Regions from separate parts of the Homo sapiens genome. Here region 1 is linked to region 2. Evidence: fine-mapped expression QTL. A gene starts in region 2. The other region holds a variant in brackets. All regions are shown on one strand. Distances are between the middles of the regions. Region 1 overlaps CCL4 (C-C motif chemokine ligand 4). Region 2 holds the start of CCL3-AS1 (CCL3 antisense RNA 1).

Region 1 (4,324 bases), 32 kb before region 2:
CTCAAGTCTGTAAAGGGTGAATGCAGACTGCAGTACAGGACTGCCACCTGGTCTCTGGTCTCAGCCTCGAGGAAGAGCTGTGGCTATGTCACCATCCTCAGCTCATCTTGCTCCCTTGATCCCTGCCTCTGCTTGCTCGGCTCCTGGCCTCCTTGGAGGAAAATGCCTGTGTCAATGGGAGCATGATGGAGGGTTCCAGGTTGAGGTGGGATAGGGGGATGAGGACATGTTTGCATGAACATGTCCTAAAGGAACATGTACATAAGGAAATGGACTCCCATCTGGAGAGTGAGCTGGGGGAGGTGGGCACTGCAAGGAGTAGGAAAACAGGCCGGATGCCTAGAAGTTGCTCCATAATCCATAGTTCCTTTCGAGTGTCCTGCTTCATCTGTTCTGGCTTCTGTCCCCACCCGGAAACCTGGAGAAACCTCAAATGGAACGTCAAGTAAGCAGATTCCAGCTCTCTGGGCCCAGGGTGAGAAAAGGAAGTTGTATGAAAAGAGGAGAAAGGAAAAAAACAGTCTCATATTGTGCAACAGGTGAAGTCCCACATTGCCCCACTTCGAGGATTCCATTCTGCTGTTTGTAATTGCTGGTGAAGCATTTCTTCATGAGGCTGCCCAGGCCTCCTGCAGCCTTCCCTGGTGGTCTTGCCTCTGTGGAGCTGAGCTCCTCCCTTTCCATTAGCTGAGGGGCAGGGAGGATTGGGAAAGGGACTCCATCGTGAGGGAGAAGACCCAGATTCTGGCCCTGACCTTGCCTGCTCAACAATGAACCAGAGACAGGTCATGGCTCTGCTCTGGGCTGCATCTGACAGATGAGAGGATGGATTCTTTCCCGGACAGGAATCCAGGACCCCTCAGAGCACCCTAGATGTCTCAAGAAGAGGCATGCTTCCTAAGGGTCTTGGACCCTGGATCAAGCCTCAGCCCCAGAACTCAGTTGCTGAAGCAGATCTCCTCTTGGGATGCCTCTCCTCATTATAGTTCATCTCCTTGAGGTGTGTCCCTCTCACCCTGGGTTCCTCCTGCAGGGAGGTTTGGCTCACCCTCTAGAATGCTCCCTTTCCTGCCACACTGAGCTATTGGGGGCCGCTATCAGTGACGCGTCAGTTGGTGGTTGTATTTGTTCCTATTGCTGCTGTAAAAAATTACCACACACTTAACATCTTATAACCACATATTTATTCTCTTAAAGTTCTGGAGGTGAGAAGTCTGAAATTAGTTTCACTAAGCCACACTCCCTTTGGAGGCTCTAGGGGAGGAAAAATTTCCTTGCCATTTGCAGCTTCTAGAGCTGCATCCTAACACTTCTTGGCTCCTGGCCTCTTCCTCCATCTTCCAAGCCAGCAGCATAGCATCTTGCTTCTGTTGTCACATTGCTATCTTCTCCTCTATTACCAAATTCTTCTCTTCCTCCCCCTTATAAGGACACTTACAACTGCATTTAGGGCCTGACCAAATAATTCAAGGTAATCACTCATCTCAAGATTCTTAACTTGATCATATCTCCAAAGTCCATTTTGCTATAAAAGTGACATTCACAGGTTCTGAGGAATAGGATGTGTGCACCTCGGGGGCCATTATTCAGCTACCGTAGTGATCTATACCTTGTCTCTGGCCTGGAGTCATCCATTCTCTCTCCCATCCCGTCGCCTCAGAATAGAATTGCATATCTTTCTCAAAATCCACACTCTAATCTTACAGGCCATCCCAACTCCCCTTCCCTTCACTTTCTTTAGGCTCTGAGAACATTCTAGGAGACTGCTCTCCAACAGAACTTTCTGCAATGATGGACAGAAAGCCCGTAATCCGTGCTGTCTAACATGGGAGCTAGCCACATGGAGCTACTGAGCACTTGAAATGTGACTAGTGTGACTCAGGAACTGAATTTTAAATTTTATTTCATTTTAATTAAATGTAATGAAAACGTAAATAGCCACTTTGGCCAGTGGCTAACATATTAGACAGCTCAGATCTAGGCAAATGAAAGCAGAAACTATGGCCAGGCACATTCTTTGCTGCTAGCCTCTTCCTACACCTGTTTTGGATCAGCTCTGCCCCCTAACCTCCTTCTCTCAGTCCCCGCAGAATCTGAAAGAAGTTTCCACTGGGGCTCTGGAATGATGAGGGTGACTAAGGGCAGGACAAGGAAGGGAATTGTGTCTGTTGACCCCAGAGAAGTGCAGGGCCCCAATTCTGCTTTTGCATAGGACTAAGAACACTCAAATGATTTTCAAGATAGTCTCCGCCTTGTTCTTACTCAACCGGTCTCCCTTTTGAGGACCACAGAGATGCGTCACTAGGGAAGGTGTGCAGGAAAGGGCCCGAGCCTGGGAGCTGGCATTGGCCAGGCTCCTGCTCTGCTATGCACTCGCTGAGTGGCAC[G/A]TGGCAAGTTACTTCCCAGGCCTTGGCCCTCAGTTTCCATAAAATGAGAGGGTTGGACCAGATGGTCTAAACTTTCCTTTTAGCTTTAGTAGACTACGAGTCTGTGTCCCATGGATCAGGCTTTATTGTGCATGTAATTCTACTTCAGAGTTGTGTTGTGTCTGACCCATGGAATAGGCAGTTCTGATTGAAGGATAATTAAGTAGAAGTGGCTTTAGGTTACTCCTGCAACACTTCCAAACAAAACCTCCATCCTGCTGTCCTCATGACAACACTTCACAGTAGATTGGGATTTAGAGTGCTGATCTGTCAACTAACTAATCTAATCCTCATGATGATCCTGACAATTGCTAGGTCCATTTTAAGTGAAAAGGCTGAAGCTCAGAGAGGGAAGGAGAGAAACTTCCAGGTGCCTGGTCCTATGATGGGTGCTTTATACATCACCTTATAACAGCCCTTCGAAGTGGTTAATATTATCCCCATTTCACACTTGTGAACACCGAGGTCTAATAAGGCAAGATGACTTTCCCAATGTTATAATAATAATAAGATGATGAAGTCACTCTTCTCACTCTTCTTCCGCCTTTGCTGTGCTGCTTCCCCTCTTTACAACTCCCCCCACAAGATGTTGAAATGATAACCTCCTTTTCTGGGGCATTCTTTCATGACACTCCCCAAGCAGGCCTACAAGCTTCAGCAAGTCACTTCACCTCTCTGTGCCTCTGTTTCCTTAACTGTGAAACTCGGTGCAACAGTCCCTAGTTCATAAGGGTGTTAAAACCCTTGTTGAAAGTACGCAGTGAGATCGTGTATTAAGAGTGTTCAGCCCAGAGCTCATATTAAGGACTCAGCAATTGCTCATTCTTACTGTTTTGGGAAACTGTAGTTTGTCCCTCCCAATGGTACCAGGCAATTCCTTTTACCCCCAAATCAAATTAAAATCACAAAGAAACTGTCTGCATTTTATTTTAAAGTTTTATTATGAAAACACACAGAATCAAATGTGTTATCCATGTATTTGCAACAGCAGAGAAACAGTGACAGTGGACCATCCCCATAGGGGACACTTATCCTTTGGCTAAACTAATATAAATAATGGAAATGACACCTAATACAATAACACGGCACATAAAAAAGATTAAATTAAGAGAAGGGACAGGAACTGCGGAGAGGAGTCCTGAGTATGGAGGAGATGTGTCTCATGGAGAAGCATCCGGGCTCAGGTGACCTTCCCTGAAGACTTCCTGTCTCTGAGCAGCTCAGTTCAGTTCCAGGTCATACACGTACTCCTGGACCCAGGATTCACTGGGATCAGCACAGACTTGCTTGCTTCTTTTGGTTTGGAATCTGTAGAACAAGGAGCGGACAGATTAGAATCTCATGAGACCTTTGAGGTCATCTGGCTTTATCCTTTGCATCTTCCTCTGCCTGACCATGGTCCATGTGGGGCAGCTCTGGTGGATGGGATCCTTCCTGGAGCAGCACTGGAAGCAGACTCCCTGTAACTTCCACCCACTGGATTTAGCTGTGGGCCCCAGGAGTTGCCCAGATTAGGAACCAAGGGGCATTGCAATCAATATGAATAGATCTCCCCATTCCCTGCCAGCCTGGCAGTGACTTTTCCACATGTCTTTCTAGCACGGTTTAAGGAATCGGTCCATATCTCATGGGACCTGTCTGCCTTCCCCTGCTTCCCTGTCCTCTGAATAACTTCCTCCCCAGCAACCCCCTTCTCTCTCGGCTCCCACTCTGCCGCCTTCAGCACTTGAAAAGTGAGTTCATGACCTGTGTCCTCACTGCTCTCAGGGAAGGCTTCAGCCCTGGGAGCTGCCTCCCCAATGCTCAATCACCCCCTCCCCAAAACAGGCCCTCTTTTAAAATCCAGCCCTCACCCTTGCCTCCCAGGGCAGCCCAGGGGTTGATACTCACACCACAGC
Region 2 (4,394 bases):
GTTCTCCAATCATCAGCTCCACCTTAACATCTTGGGGAGATCCTATCACGTTTTGGTCACATCCAGTTATTAAAATTCCTTCAGTTTAGAACCCTAATCTTAAATTTGACTTAACTAACATTTCTACTTCTTCCTTTCTCCTCGCCCTTCACCAGAGCAAAACAGGCTCTGGTAGTTGGAGTGTGATGAAGCTTTAGTTTGGTTCTGAGATACCCTCTCTCCTTCTCTTTTTAACTCCTCTGGCATGTTGGAAAGAGGGGTTGTCTGTGTGGGGTAATATAAAGAGAAAATTTTGCTGGTTGTGGTGGTTTGTACCTGTAATCCCAGTGCTTTGGGAGGCCAGGGCCAGAGGAACACTTGAGGCCAGGAGTTGGCGACCAGCCTGGGCAACACAGTGAGATCCTGTCTCTACAAAAAAAAAAAAAATTTAATTAGCAGGCATTGTAGTGTGCAGCTATAGTCCTAGCTACTCAGGAGGCTGAGGCAGGAGGATCGCTTGAGCCCAGAAGTTCTAGTCTGCAGTGAGCTGTGATCACACCACTGTACTCCAGCCTGGGTGACAGAGCAAGACCCTGTCTCTAAAAGAATTTTTTTTAATTTAAATGTTTAAAAGAGAGAGGGGAAAGAATTCTTTTAACTGCCTACAGATGTAGTCCCTGCCCCCACTGCTAGGTTATCCCTGCATCTTTTAAAAAAATATTGAAGTTATGGGCAATGCATGTATATTTCCCTCGGATAGATGGGCATTCCTGAGGGTCCTCTCTCTGCATAGTTTCTTAGGTGAGAGATCCCACCCTTGCCCAACATCTTTCACCTCTCTCTTCTGCTCACACCACTGGCAGCATACCCTGGGCCTTTGCTAGCCTGGAAGACACCATTGAGCATGTTACAAAAAAGCACCATGGAGCACACCTAGCCCTGTGTGAGTGCAAGACCTTACAGGTGATGGGCAGACTGGCTTTCAGCACCCTCTTGCCCACACATCCAGGGGCCTTTGTAGACAGCGGCCCTGAGACCACCCCATCAGCTACTGCTGTTAAGATCCTTGTAAGCTAAGCAGTGGATCTCCTATTGGTAGGATGAGCACTTTAAGACTCAAAGGGGTTACTATTAATAACTATGCTGGCACAACTGGCATAAACTGGGTCATTTCCCAGACAAAATGGGACATGTGATTCCCCCAACCTTTGCGGAGTGTCACTGGGAGGATGGCTCGAGCCCAGCTCCCTTCCACAGGATCACTCGGCCAATGGAAAGCTCATTCCATGTGGTGGGAGAGCAGCCTCCAGCAATCCTTTTCCCTGCTTTGGTTCCTATCTTCTGTTTTCTTCTCCCCTGCTCATTTTGGCTCAGGCAAATCATGAGGTTCACCATGTAAGCTGACATCCAACTGGAAAATGAGTTGCCTTGTTTGCAGGTACTTCCAGTTTGTACAAGTTACCCTCTGGAGACCCCTTCACTGGGCTTCAAGAGCAGTTAGAAGTAAAGACCTCTCCTTCACAAAGGTGGAACCCACTAGGCTGGCCACTTTCTTTCCTTTTCCTATGTCTACAATGCCCTGGAAGGATTGTCTGGCCCCAGTTGTTAGTGACTTAGTTTAGAATATAAAGTCTATAATGAAAACTTAGTCTCAGATTTGGGAACTAGCCATCATTTGTGGGGCAACAGGGTATATCCCGATCAAAATCTTTTTACAAAACCGGTAAAATAATTCAGGAAAGACCAGGCACAGTGGCTCACGCCTGTAATCCCAGCACTTTGGGAGGCCAAGGCGGGCAGATCACCTGAGATCAGGAGTTCGAGACCAGCCTGGCCAACATGGTGAAACCCCATCTCTACTAAAAATACAAAAATTAGCTGGGCGTGGTGGTGCGTGCCTGTAATCCCAGCTACTCAGGAGGCTGAGGCACAAGAATCACTTGAACCCAGGAGGCAGAGGTGGCAGTGAGCTGCGATCATGCCATTGCACTCCAGCCTGGGCGACAAGAACAAAAACTGTCTCAAAAAATAATAATAATAACAATAATAATTATTATTATACAGGAAAATACAGAATGGCAAAGGGGTATATTATTACTGCATTATTAATGTAAAAATTGAGTATAGTGTTGAATAAAGTGAGAAAATCCCTAAGACAACTGGCATATAACAGGAGAGTCTGAATTGAACCCCCAATTTGGGAAGAACATGCTTGATGTGATGTAATCACAGGCAGGGGATTGGTCATCTTCACATATAAAGACAGAATTAATATGAGAAAGTTACATACATTTGGTAGATACTAGTTGGGTTCCAAGGTCTTTCTCTCTTTCTTTCTCTTTTATCCTTACATGATTCTTCGGAAAAGCAACCCCTCTGGTAGTCTGTGTGGTTTTCAGCCCATCAACATTGCTTGTTATAGACATTGATCAGCTGAAACAAATCAGTAAATCCACTTCTCTGGCCACAAAGATGAATTAAGATACAGGTTGGCAAACTTGCTCTGTAAAGGACCAAATGGAAACTACTTCAGGTTTTGTGGGTCATACAGTGTCTTTCACAACTACTCAGCTCTGCTTTGTCGTATGAAAATATGATTCATTCCAGGTAAGGAGTCCTTGCTAGACTGTGGGCTGTAAACAATACAGAAACAAATAAACCCAACTGCATTCCAATAAAACTTTTTTATGGACACTAAAACTCCAATTTCATACAATTTTCATATTTCTCAAAATAATCTTCTTTTGGATGTTTTCAATGACTTAAAATGTAAAAACATCTTAGCTCGCAGGCCATACAAAAACAGGTAGTAGGTCAAATTGGGCCCAATGGCCATAGTTTGCTGGCCCCTGGGTTAAGAGATGGGCTCTTAATCCAAGCCAGCCAGACCAATAAAAGTGGAACTCAGGCTCTTGGCTCAAAATACGAGGATACAGACATTGTCTTCCCAATTTGCTCTGGAAGTTTCTGGAAGCTATTCTGCCAATAGAGTAACTAGGATGAATATAGTAACTTCTTTCTAGGATGAAGCTCTCAAATGCAGGGAGATCAGAAATTCAGAAAGACATGTATAGTCCATAGCGAAACAAGGACCACTGAATCAAGTTTTGCCTGAAACTAATTCTATTTCTTGAAGCTTCAGTTATGTGAACTAATAAGTTCCCTTTATCATTTAAGCCAGATTGAGTTATTTTTCTGACACTGTGACTTAAACCATCCCTAACTAACATAGACTGCAATGTTGTAAGTATGGGTCCCCAAACGTGGAACTGGCTGAAGGCAGTAGCTAAGGTCAAAGTCAGTGGGGATACCTCTAGTTACCAAAATTGCCGGTTACCCCCATGGCCTGTTATATATTCTAAGTCCATCTTCGAGCCAAAGTTTTATCAAAAACGAAAATTCAGGGTATTGGAGACTATTTCTTGCATCAGTCTTAGTAAGGCCCACTAAGAAAGAAATTAACTTACTTTGAAACTGATTCTTCTGATAGCAGAGAAGGGGAAAAAAAGTAGTTTTTTAAAGAAATGTACTTTCTGCTTGCTGCCTGAAAACCAAGCTAATTAAGAATCCTGTGATCTGGAGCTTGCAGGACTAGAAGAGCAGAATTTTCCAGTCCAAGCTAATGTTAATATAAGCAAAAATGAGGAGGTGAGAGATTAGGCAGGACAGGAAAGCAGGTCCCGAAGCAGCCAAATCCACCTCCTTCTCAGATCCCACATTGTAAATATTTATCTTGATGATAAAATGAATGTATTAGTCAGTTATCCAGAAAAACAGAAACAGTAGGCTATTTCTCTCTATAGATATAGATTGGATACCAATGTTGATATAGATATAAATACCGAGATATTTATTAGGGGAATTGGCTCCCACAATTACGGAAGCCAAGAAGTCCTGCCATCTGCAAGCTGGAGAACCAGGAAAGCCAGTGGTGTGATTTGGTCTGAAGGCCTGAGAACCAGGGCAGCCAAAGTTGTCAGTCCTGGTCCAAGTTCACAGACCTGAGAAGGGGTCAAGAAGGGTAGGTGATGGTACAAGTCCCTGTCTGAGTCTGAAGGCTCAAGAATCGGAAGCGTGGATGTCAGAGGGCAGGAGAAGATGGATGTCCCAGCTCAAACGCAGACAGCAAAGTCACCCTTCCTCAGCCTTTTTGTTCTATTTGGGACCTCAGTGAATTGGATGATGCCTGCCTGCATTGGTGAGGGCAGATCTTCTTTAGTCTTCTGATGCTAATCTCTTCTGGAACACCACACAGACACACTCAGAAATGATGTTTATCAGCTACCTGGGTATCCCTTAGCTTAGTCCAGTTGACGCGTAACATTAACCATCACAATGAACAGCTGTGCTCTTTGTGAAGGTGCAGCTGTATTCATCAGAGGCAGGGAGCTAAAGACGCTGACCTTCGCACTTGT

Evidence for each region. PIP is the estimated chance that this variant, and not a neighbour inherited with it, causes the effect. A credible set is the group of variants that fine-mapping cannot tell apart.
Region 1: its variant is the best candidate, but not a certain one, in a credible set for the expression of CCL3-AS1 in whole blood (TOPMed, PIP 0.69).

The regions. Positions count from the first base shown.
Region 1 is chr17:36,104,635-36,108,958 of GRCh38, reverse strand. It overlaps CCL4 (C-C motif chemokine ligand 4), which reads right to left. Exons shown (of 3, transcript NM_002984.4): 2 at 4,317-4,324; 3 at 3,345-3,734. The coding sequence ends at 3,647. Among named protein-coding and RNA genes, the nearest start is that of CCL4, 3.0 kb to the right of the region's middle. The variant G/A (reference allele first, on the strand shown) is at 2,388.
Region 2 is chr17:36,072,724-36,077,117 of GRCh38, reverse strand. CCL3-AS1 (CCL3 antisense RNA 1) reads right to left here and starts at 2,505. Exons shown (of 3, transcript NR_186417.1): 1 at 2,270-2,505; 2 at 316-408.